2 linked regions of the Homo sapiens genome follow. The protein of the gene in region 2 purifies or fractionates together with the protein of the main gene of each other region. This does not show direct contact. Each region holds a gene or a part of one and is shown on either strand. Other genes may lie near its edges. The genes, in order: PASK and IGSF5.

Region 1 (3,811 bases), on a different chromosome or scaffold from region 2:
TAAGAATATGTCACAGCCCCCGAGACAGAGAGGAACATCAAACCAGAAAACAGTCACCCCCTACTCCGCCCCCCACCACCCCTGAGCCTCTGGAGGGACAATAGCTCCTGCTCCTCCCAGCCCTGTCTCAGAGGCATGGGGCTGTCTGGGGCTCAGCAGCTACAGGCGCATTCAGGAGGAAGAGGACGTCTTACCCTGGCCCCCCTCAGCTGGGTCCTGGCCCTGCCACGGGTCCAAGGTTCTCTCCCCACACCCACTCTCATTGCCGACGTCCAGGCAGCTGGCCAGGTCTGGGAGCTGTAATGAGCTGTTGTACGCAAGGTCCATGTAGCTGTAGAAACCAGGAATCAGGAAAGTGATATTCTAGAAAACAAAGCAGGGACATTTCAGAACCTGGAGGATCCACGCTGACCCACTGGACCGTCCCCCTGGGGGAGGAATGAACACAAGGAGAGCCAGTCCCTGAGGGTTCACCCTTAAGGTCAGGAAAGGCCTCGGGCCAAATGCCCTTCGACGCACCTGAAGCCCCTCAGATGCTCAACATGTGATCTGTGATTTTCCCCTTAAGAAAAAGGTAAAAACATACTCTGCGGCAAGTTACAGTGACATCGACACATCTTTGGAGCAGACATCTGGCCTTTGGCCCCATGTTTAGATGGATCTGGGAGCCTGTGTTTGCAAGCCTCACCTCACGCGGCTCACTGGTGGCCGGAACAGTGACATGCACCCAGGACAGAAGGACTGTGGGGCCTTCCTCCCAGGCCAGGAGCTGCTCTGACAGATGCTTCCTCTGAACCTGTGTGTGGCCCCCTCACCGGGACACTGCCCATAGCTGTAATGCCAGAACCCGCTCTAACCTCACAGAGGGCACAAGTGTCCATGCCCCCAAAATCCCTGCAAGGTCTCAATGCCCTCAGCTCCTGTGGGAACCCCTCATCCAGGAAGAACACTAACTGCTTTTTAACTAACTTAAATTTAACGTAACTACAATTCAGCTTAGCTACTTTTTAGTATTTCTACTAGGGTGAGAAATGAACCCCCGCAGTTGTGTCGTAAACCCTGGTCCATCAGTCAGACCAGATCTCTCAGGGCTTCGAAGCACAGTGCTCCTCTCCCTCCGACGGTGGTTGCTGGGGAAGGGTGGAGAGGAAGGAGCTTGGCAGCCATGAGCAGGGACCTCCCTCCCTGGACCCAAGGTCCTTCCTGGGTAAAGGAGCGAGCTGGAGAGCTTGCCGGGTGCGAGGCCTGTGCCACACGCAAGCCCGCACTGCAGAGCACAGCAGCTTCCTCCCAGGGAACGGGAGCCAGGCGCCCAGGGCAGCCCCACCTTGCCCAGGAGCTCCGTCTTTCCGTAACCAAACAGTGTCAGCGCGAAGCTGTGGTTGATGCCGTGGATGGTCCCATCCGGCAGGAGGGTGATGAGGCCACTGATGGTGCAGAACACCCAGACAGATGCCCGGTAGCCGCTCACAGGGGCCGCCTCACCGGTGGTCGCCTCCTCGCTGCTGGGTTGGGATTTCAGCTTTAAGCTCAGAGGGAAGGTGGTACCGTCCCTGGCTCTTCCAACAGACCTCTGAATCTTGAGATTCTGAAAGAAAGGCTTGTCGTTTGGCTTAAGCCGTGTTTCACGTGGACAGAGCACTGAGTCTGTGCTGCGTCCGACCCGACTTCTACCCCACGTCATCGGGGAAGGTCCCCAGGACATCTCACACCCACACTGCTCTGCCTTCCCTCTCCTCCCAGGCCCAGCTGGCCCAGGAAAGAGCCCTTCTGTGGGTGGGGAGGACTCAGTGTCCAGAGCCGCCCCAGGCACAGCAACCCCAGGGCAAGTGAGACACCCCAGTGAGGGGCCGGGCACCAGCAGGGAGGGAGGGAGGGAGGACTGTGGGGCTCAGGCTCGGGGCTCAGCCACGCCACTGGCAACTGTGCCATCCTTGATCTGGCACCAGGATACTGGCCCCACAGGCAGCACTACACCAGCTGCGCAGCTGTGGATGTTACCTCCCACCCCTCAGCCTTGGGCAGCGTCCCAGCATCCACCTCTGTGGGTGGCCCAGCTCCTGGGAGAAGACTCAGGGGACAAGAGTGGTCAGCTGGGAGACCACATAGGCTCCGGCCCTTGGTCAAGGCCTCAGCGCACAGGAAGCTCAAAACTGAGCATGTCCCACCCCTAAGGCCACCCTTGCCTTCAGAAACCCTTGGTCTGCGTCTCCAGTTATGGATTCAGAGCTAAGAACTCCACCCCATCACACAGTGCGGGAGGTCAGGAGCCCTACCTTTGGGATGTGCTGGCCAGAAGGAGGGAGCTGCACAGAAGGGATCAGGTCTGTGATATGCTGCCCAGCCACGTCCTCCCCAGACACGTACCCGTGAAGATGAGCAAAGAGACTGTCACATGACGTGACGGTGCCCTGGAGGAAAAGCCCCGTGCTTATCATAAAAGCTTCTTGTGCTCCAGCTGTAAATTTAACTAAGCTTCAATATGTTCAAGCCAAAAGCAAGACCCCAACATGACTTCTCCATCGGAAGGGCAAGAGACATATACACATGAATTTGATAAGAGCTTCATCATCTGTCTCCTTCTACCAGAGACGTACCTAAATTGTGGGCCTTCTTGTTCTTCAGGAGCCTGGCCCACACCACAGCTCATTAATAACATCCCAGTTCACATATGAGGGCTGTCTCTAATGCCAGCTACTATCCTGGGGGGTTTACATATATTATCTCATTTAAATGTTGAAACAATCTTATGAGGAGTTATGATTATGCCCCAGTTCACAGGTGAGGAACTGAAGTATAGGAAGTTCGTTCCCTGCCCAAGCACACGCAATCAGCGAGGGTACCACTGGGCAGACCCTCCAGGCTCCTCATCCTCTCTTTCTTCCCAAAGGAATGAGACAGGGACCAGCACTTGCTGAAGAGGAGAACGACGCCGGCTCCAGCGTCCATGAGACATGAGGCAAAGTTGCACACTCACATCGCTCTGGAAAGCGACCCAGGTCGAGACCCTCTCCACGGGCTCCAGGACCACCACGCAGCATAGGCGGCGCTCCTGCCGCATCCTCTTCATCCACACAGACACTGGAATCTTCTCCCCACTACGGCTGATGATGTCCACCTGTGGAAACAGACAGGTTCACACCTGCATGCCATGAACCCAAAAGACCAGTATGGGTGGGGCACCTGCCTCCAGGAGGCCCAAACTCCAGGCACTGCAACGTTTTCAACTTCTGCTTACCTGATTTTCATTTCAGAAATTTACCAAAGCACAAACAAGATTTCCCATACTGAACATTAAAATCTCCAAGTGCAAGTTTTATCAAGAGAGTAGATTTCATTCTCAGTTCATGGTAATATTGCAGGGTGAAAAAAGCAGTATCTGTTATTTCTTAAAGAAACAGACACCAACACATGGTGAATATCTTAGTTTTTTTCTTCTTAGTAGTCAGTTTCTTGAACCAGTGATTTTCTGATACAATTGGTCCTAAGCCTGTGACATCAGTTCAGTTCAAGCAATGGGGTCTTCTGTGTGAAAGCCACACACTAGGTGGGAAACAGGCAACCTGGAGGATCTGGATGACTACTAGAGCCTCAGATCATACCCCAACCTCCACTGCCCTCCAACGCTACTCCCCCAGTCCCCGACCGGCTGACGAGGGGAAACCCTACAATCAGCCATGCCTTGGGCTTTTTCCATGCCTTGGGCTCAGTCCTCCACATCCAACTCAGCTCACCTGTCAACATCCAGGTTGGACACATGGCACAGGTGAGAGAATCAACACTGTCTAGGGAAATGCTTCCAGGCCAACAC
Region 2 (3,811 bases):
CTGGACACCGCCACGGCTCAATAAAAAGGTGCTGGCATTTCTCCTGCACTCGGAAGACTCCAGCTCTGAGCATCTTGCATTCAGGGTCGGCCTTCTCAGAACCTCCAGAGACTTTGGGAGAATTCTACTTTCCCTAAGGCTTCTCATTAGAGGGTGGAAAAGGCATTTACAAGCTTGTCCAATGAATGGCAGACGTCATGAGTCAGTCCTTTCCAAAAGCCCAGACTTCCCCACTGCACAATATCTCCATGTAACAAAACTGCATTTGTACCCTCGAAGTCGGTAAAAGTTTTTTTAAAAACTTTCTATTAATTGAATCCTGACCCCACCCCCCCCAGCCCATCAAATTTCAGCCAAGTCTCAGCTTTCAACCCATCCCAAGAACAGTTCACTGTGAAAGCGACACTCACTGAGTAGAAACCATCCAGAAATTCTGAACTTCTCAGAGAAGCCCACGCTTGTAGTTTTTAACTCTGTGGAAGTTGGAAAGCGAAGATCATGTGTGCAAATGTCCAGAACTTTCCTGGGAAACCCAGATAACGGCCTGTGCGGGGCTTGAGGGGCCCTATGGAGAAACTCACTTGACAAACACCTGTCACAGGGGAGCCACAAACTGGAGTTGTCTTACCCCAGATGACAGGTAAACCCTTTGGAGGGCTTCAGCAAGGGTGCTTCATTTCCTAAAGGCCTCTTCGTGGCTCTTGTCCTCTCTCCATACAAATGTAGAAACACACTCTTGTCTGGCCTCTAGAGAGTCCTGATGCTGCCTCACCAGAACCAAAGTTCCTCAAGAAATGGCTCTGTCACATCACAGACTGTGTTATAAATGCAGATGTGGCCTCACAGTCCAGGGAGGTATAAGCTCTTCAGAGTGCGTATTTCCTCATTAATCATCACCAAGCTCCAAACAGCAGCCAAACACAGGAAGTCCAGGCCCCGGGCTGGGAACGCAGAGGCCTCAGGGCCAGTCTATCCTCTCCACTCCGGCCTCCACTCCCTCTCCCTCCTCTTCCAAGTCCTTCGGAGTCAAGGCACTGCTCAGCTCCCGCCCTGGTCCTCTTCCACCAGCTGGAGGCTGACAGATCCTTCCTGCCCAAAACATGCTGCCTGGCTGACTGACCTTGCCTCCAGCAAAGGCCCAGCGGCTGGTGGAACTGGCTCCTTCTCCCAGCCAGGCACCTTGACATCCACAAGAACAAATCCTCTTAAGAAAGAAAAAAGTCCCGAGGGTGCGTCCTCTGGATGAGACAGCCATTAGGAGTAAGTGTGGCTTCCATGGCATTTGCTGGAGGACTGGTGGATAGGGCAGAGCTCCAACCCCCCACCCTCAAGTGCTAGGAGATGAACACAGGAACGTGGCTTTGCAGAGCACTGTGACAGTTCTGGAAGACTGTGTCCCAAGAACCTGATGTTCAGCACCATACTGAACTGCTTTTTTTTTTTTTTTTCTGGAGACAGTGTCTTGCTCTGTTACCCAGGCTGGAGTGCAGTGGCACGATCATAGGTCACTGCAACCTTGAACTCCTAGGCTCAAGCAGTCCTCCAGCCTCAGCCTTCCAAAGTGCCGGGATTACAGGTGGGAGCCACCACACCCAGTGAAAGGTCTGCTTTTTTAATGGTCCTTTTTGATAATCTTGTCAGGGAACTCAGAATCAAGGATTTCTGCATGTAATAGGCACCAATGGAAGATATAGCTAACATATTTAAAGACCAAGAAGCAAGTAAATGGGGCCAGGGGAGGCGAAGAATGCTCTTCCTTCCAGTTGAAGGTGTGAAAGGAAAATAAATCACGGGACCCCAAAATCACTAAGCCAAAGGGAGAAAGTCAAGCTGGGAACTGTATCAGGCAGACCTGCCTCCCATTTTATTCCTAAATAAGATAGCTATAAAGATGAAAAAGCTGCATACCTCCTTCACAATTTGCCCATGAGAAAAATTCCCTTGTGGGCCTCAAGATCTTTACCTTAAAAACAGTTCCGTTGAATTTCACCCTGGCAATGTAAATTGTAGCTGATCTTCACAGGTGCGGAGCAAAGGCCAGAACTCAAAGTCATCTCTCTGCTTACCTGAGACAAATGTGTATCTGATTGCTTTCTCTGCCGTATTGCTTAGTAAAAATACAGATTCATTGAGTCAGACAAGGCATAACTGCCTATTCCTCTACCCCTCTCTCACATGTAAATTGTGTATTCAGTGAGAGGCTGATCAACCTTGTGTCTCTTGTCTACCTACAACTTGGAAGCCCCCACTTGGAATTGTCCCACCTTTCCAGACCAAACCAATGTACACATTACACTTATTGATTGATGTCTCATGCCTCCACAAAATGTATAAAACCAGGCTGTGCCCTGACCACTTTGGGCACATGTTTTCAGGGCCTCCTGAGGCTGTGTCATAGGTGCGTCCTTAACCTTGGCAAAATAAGCTTTCTAAATTGATTGAGACCGGCTGGGCACGGTGGCTCATGCCTGTAATCCCAGCACTTTGGGAGGCCAAGGCGGGCAGATCACCTGAGGTCAGGAGTACGAGACCAGCCTGGCCAACATGGCGAAATTCTGTCTCTACTAAAAATACAATAATTAGCCGGGCGTGGTGATGTGGACCTGTAATTCCAGCTACTCGGGAGGCTGAGGCAGGAGAATCACTTGAGCCCAGGAGGCGGAGGTTGCAGTGAGTGGAGATCGTGCCACTGCACTCCAGCCTGGGTGACATGGCGAGATTCTGTTTCAAAAAAAAAAAAAAAAACCTATTTGTCTTTCCAAAAGAAACCTATTTGTTCTTTCTATAGGAAGCCTTTCTCCCCCCTTCTCCTCCCCTACAACGTTAGATATATAAGCCTTTTAACTCTTTAACTCTATTAATGAGCCAGCTACTTCCTTTGTTGGCTCCCATATGCATAAGGCATAAACATTTTTTTTCTCCCGTTAATTTGTCTTTTATGTTTCTTCCACAGGCGCCTGGTGCTGAACCTAAGAAGATAGCAGAAAAGTTAATTTTTGTGTGTGTTATACAATAACCAGACACTTGTCTCATTTGTATCCTTTTTGTCATCCAATGCAACTTTCTCAGGATGACTTCAGCTGCACGTCACAATTCAGTGAGTGCTGAGGCTTACTTCTAACCTCACTGGCTGTTTTCTGGTGGAACTTCAGTTGACCACAACCACTCCATTAAAATAAAAAAATTATAGTGTGAAAATCATTCCTTTCCACAACTAGCACATTATTTTCTAGCTTCTATAAACGGAATTGTGTTCCCCCGAAATTGCTATGTTGAAGCCCTCACTCCCAATGTCATGGTATTTAGAGATGAAGCCTTTGAAAGGTCATAAGGTCCTCAAAATGGAGCCCTCGTGATGGGACTCAGGTCCTTATAAGATCTCGTTCTCTTGAGAGGCCAAAGTGGGCAGATCATGAGGTCAGGAGTTCCAGACCAGCCTGGCCAATATGGTGAAACCCTGTCTCTACTAATAACACAAAAATTAGCCGGATGTGATGGCACGTGCCTGTAGTCCCAGCTACTCCAGTGGCTGAGGCAGGAGAATTGTTTGAACCCAGGAGGTGGAGGTTGCAGTGAGCCGAGATTGCGCCACTGCACTCCAGCCTGGGTGACAGAGAGAGACGCTGTCTCAAAAAAAAAAAAAAAAAAAAAAAAAAAGATCTTGTTTTCTCTTCACTTGCACACTTCAAGGAAAAGTCATGTGAAGACACAGCAAAAAGGAAGCCACCTGCAAGCCAGGAAGAGAGCCCTCACCAAGACGCTGACTCTGCTGGCACCTTAACCTTGGACTTCTAGCTTCTGGAACTGTGAG

What was found.
Region 1: the proteins of IGSF5 (region 2) and PASK purify together in Homo sapiens (affinity purification with mass spectrometry; one large-scale study listed by BioGRID and IntAct). This does not show direct contact.

The regions. Positions count from the first base shown.
Region 1 is NC_000002.12:241,135,677-241,139,487, forward strand, and holds part of PASK (PAS domain-containing serine/threonine-protein kinase), read right to left. Parts: intron 3,119-3,811; coding exon 2,978-3,118; intron 2,412-2,977; coding exon 2,277-2,411; intron 1,589-2,276; coding exon 1,328-1,588; intron 364-1,327; coding exon 195-363; intron 1-194. UniProt on the Homo sapiens protein: Serine/threonine-protein kinase involved in energy homeostasis and protein translation. Phosphorylates EEF1A1, GYS1, PDX1 and RPS6.
Region 2 is NC_000021.9:39,748,148-39,751,958, reverse strand, and holds part of IGSF5 (immunoglobulin superfamily member 5), read right to left. Parts: intron 1-3,811. UniProt on the Homo sapiens protein: Provides, together with MAGI1, an adhesion machinery at tight junctions, which may regulate the permeability of kidney glomerulus and small intestinal epithelial cells. Mediates calcium-independent homophilic cell adhesion.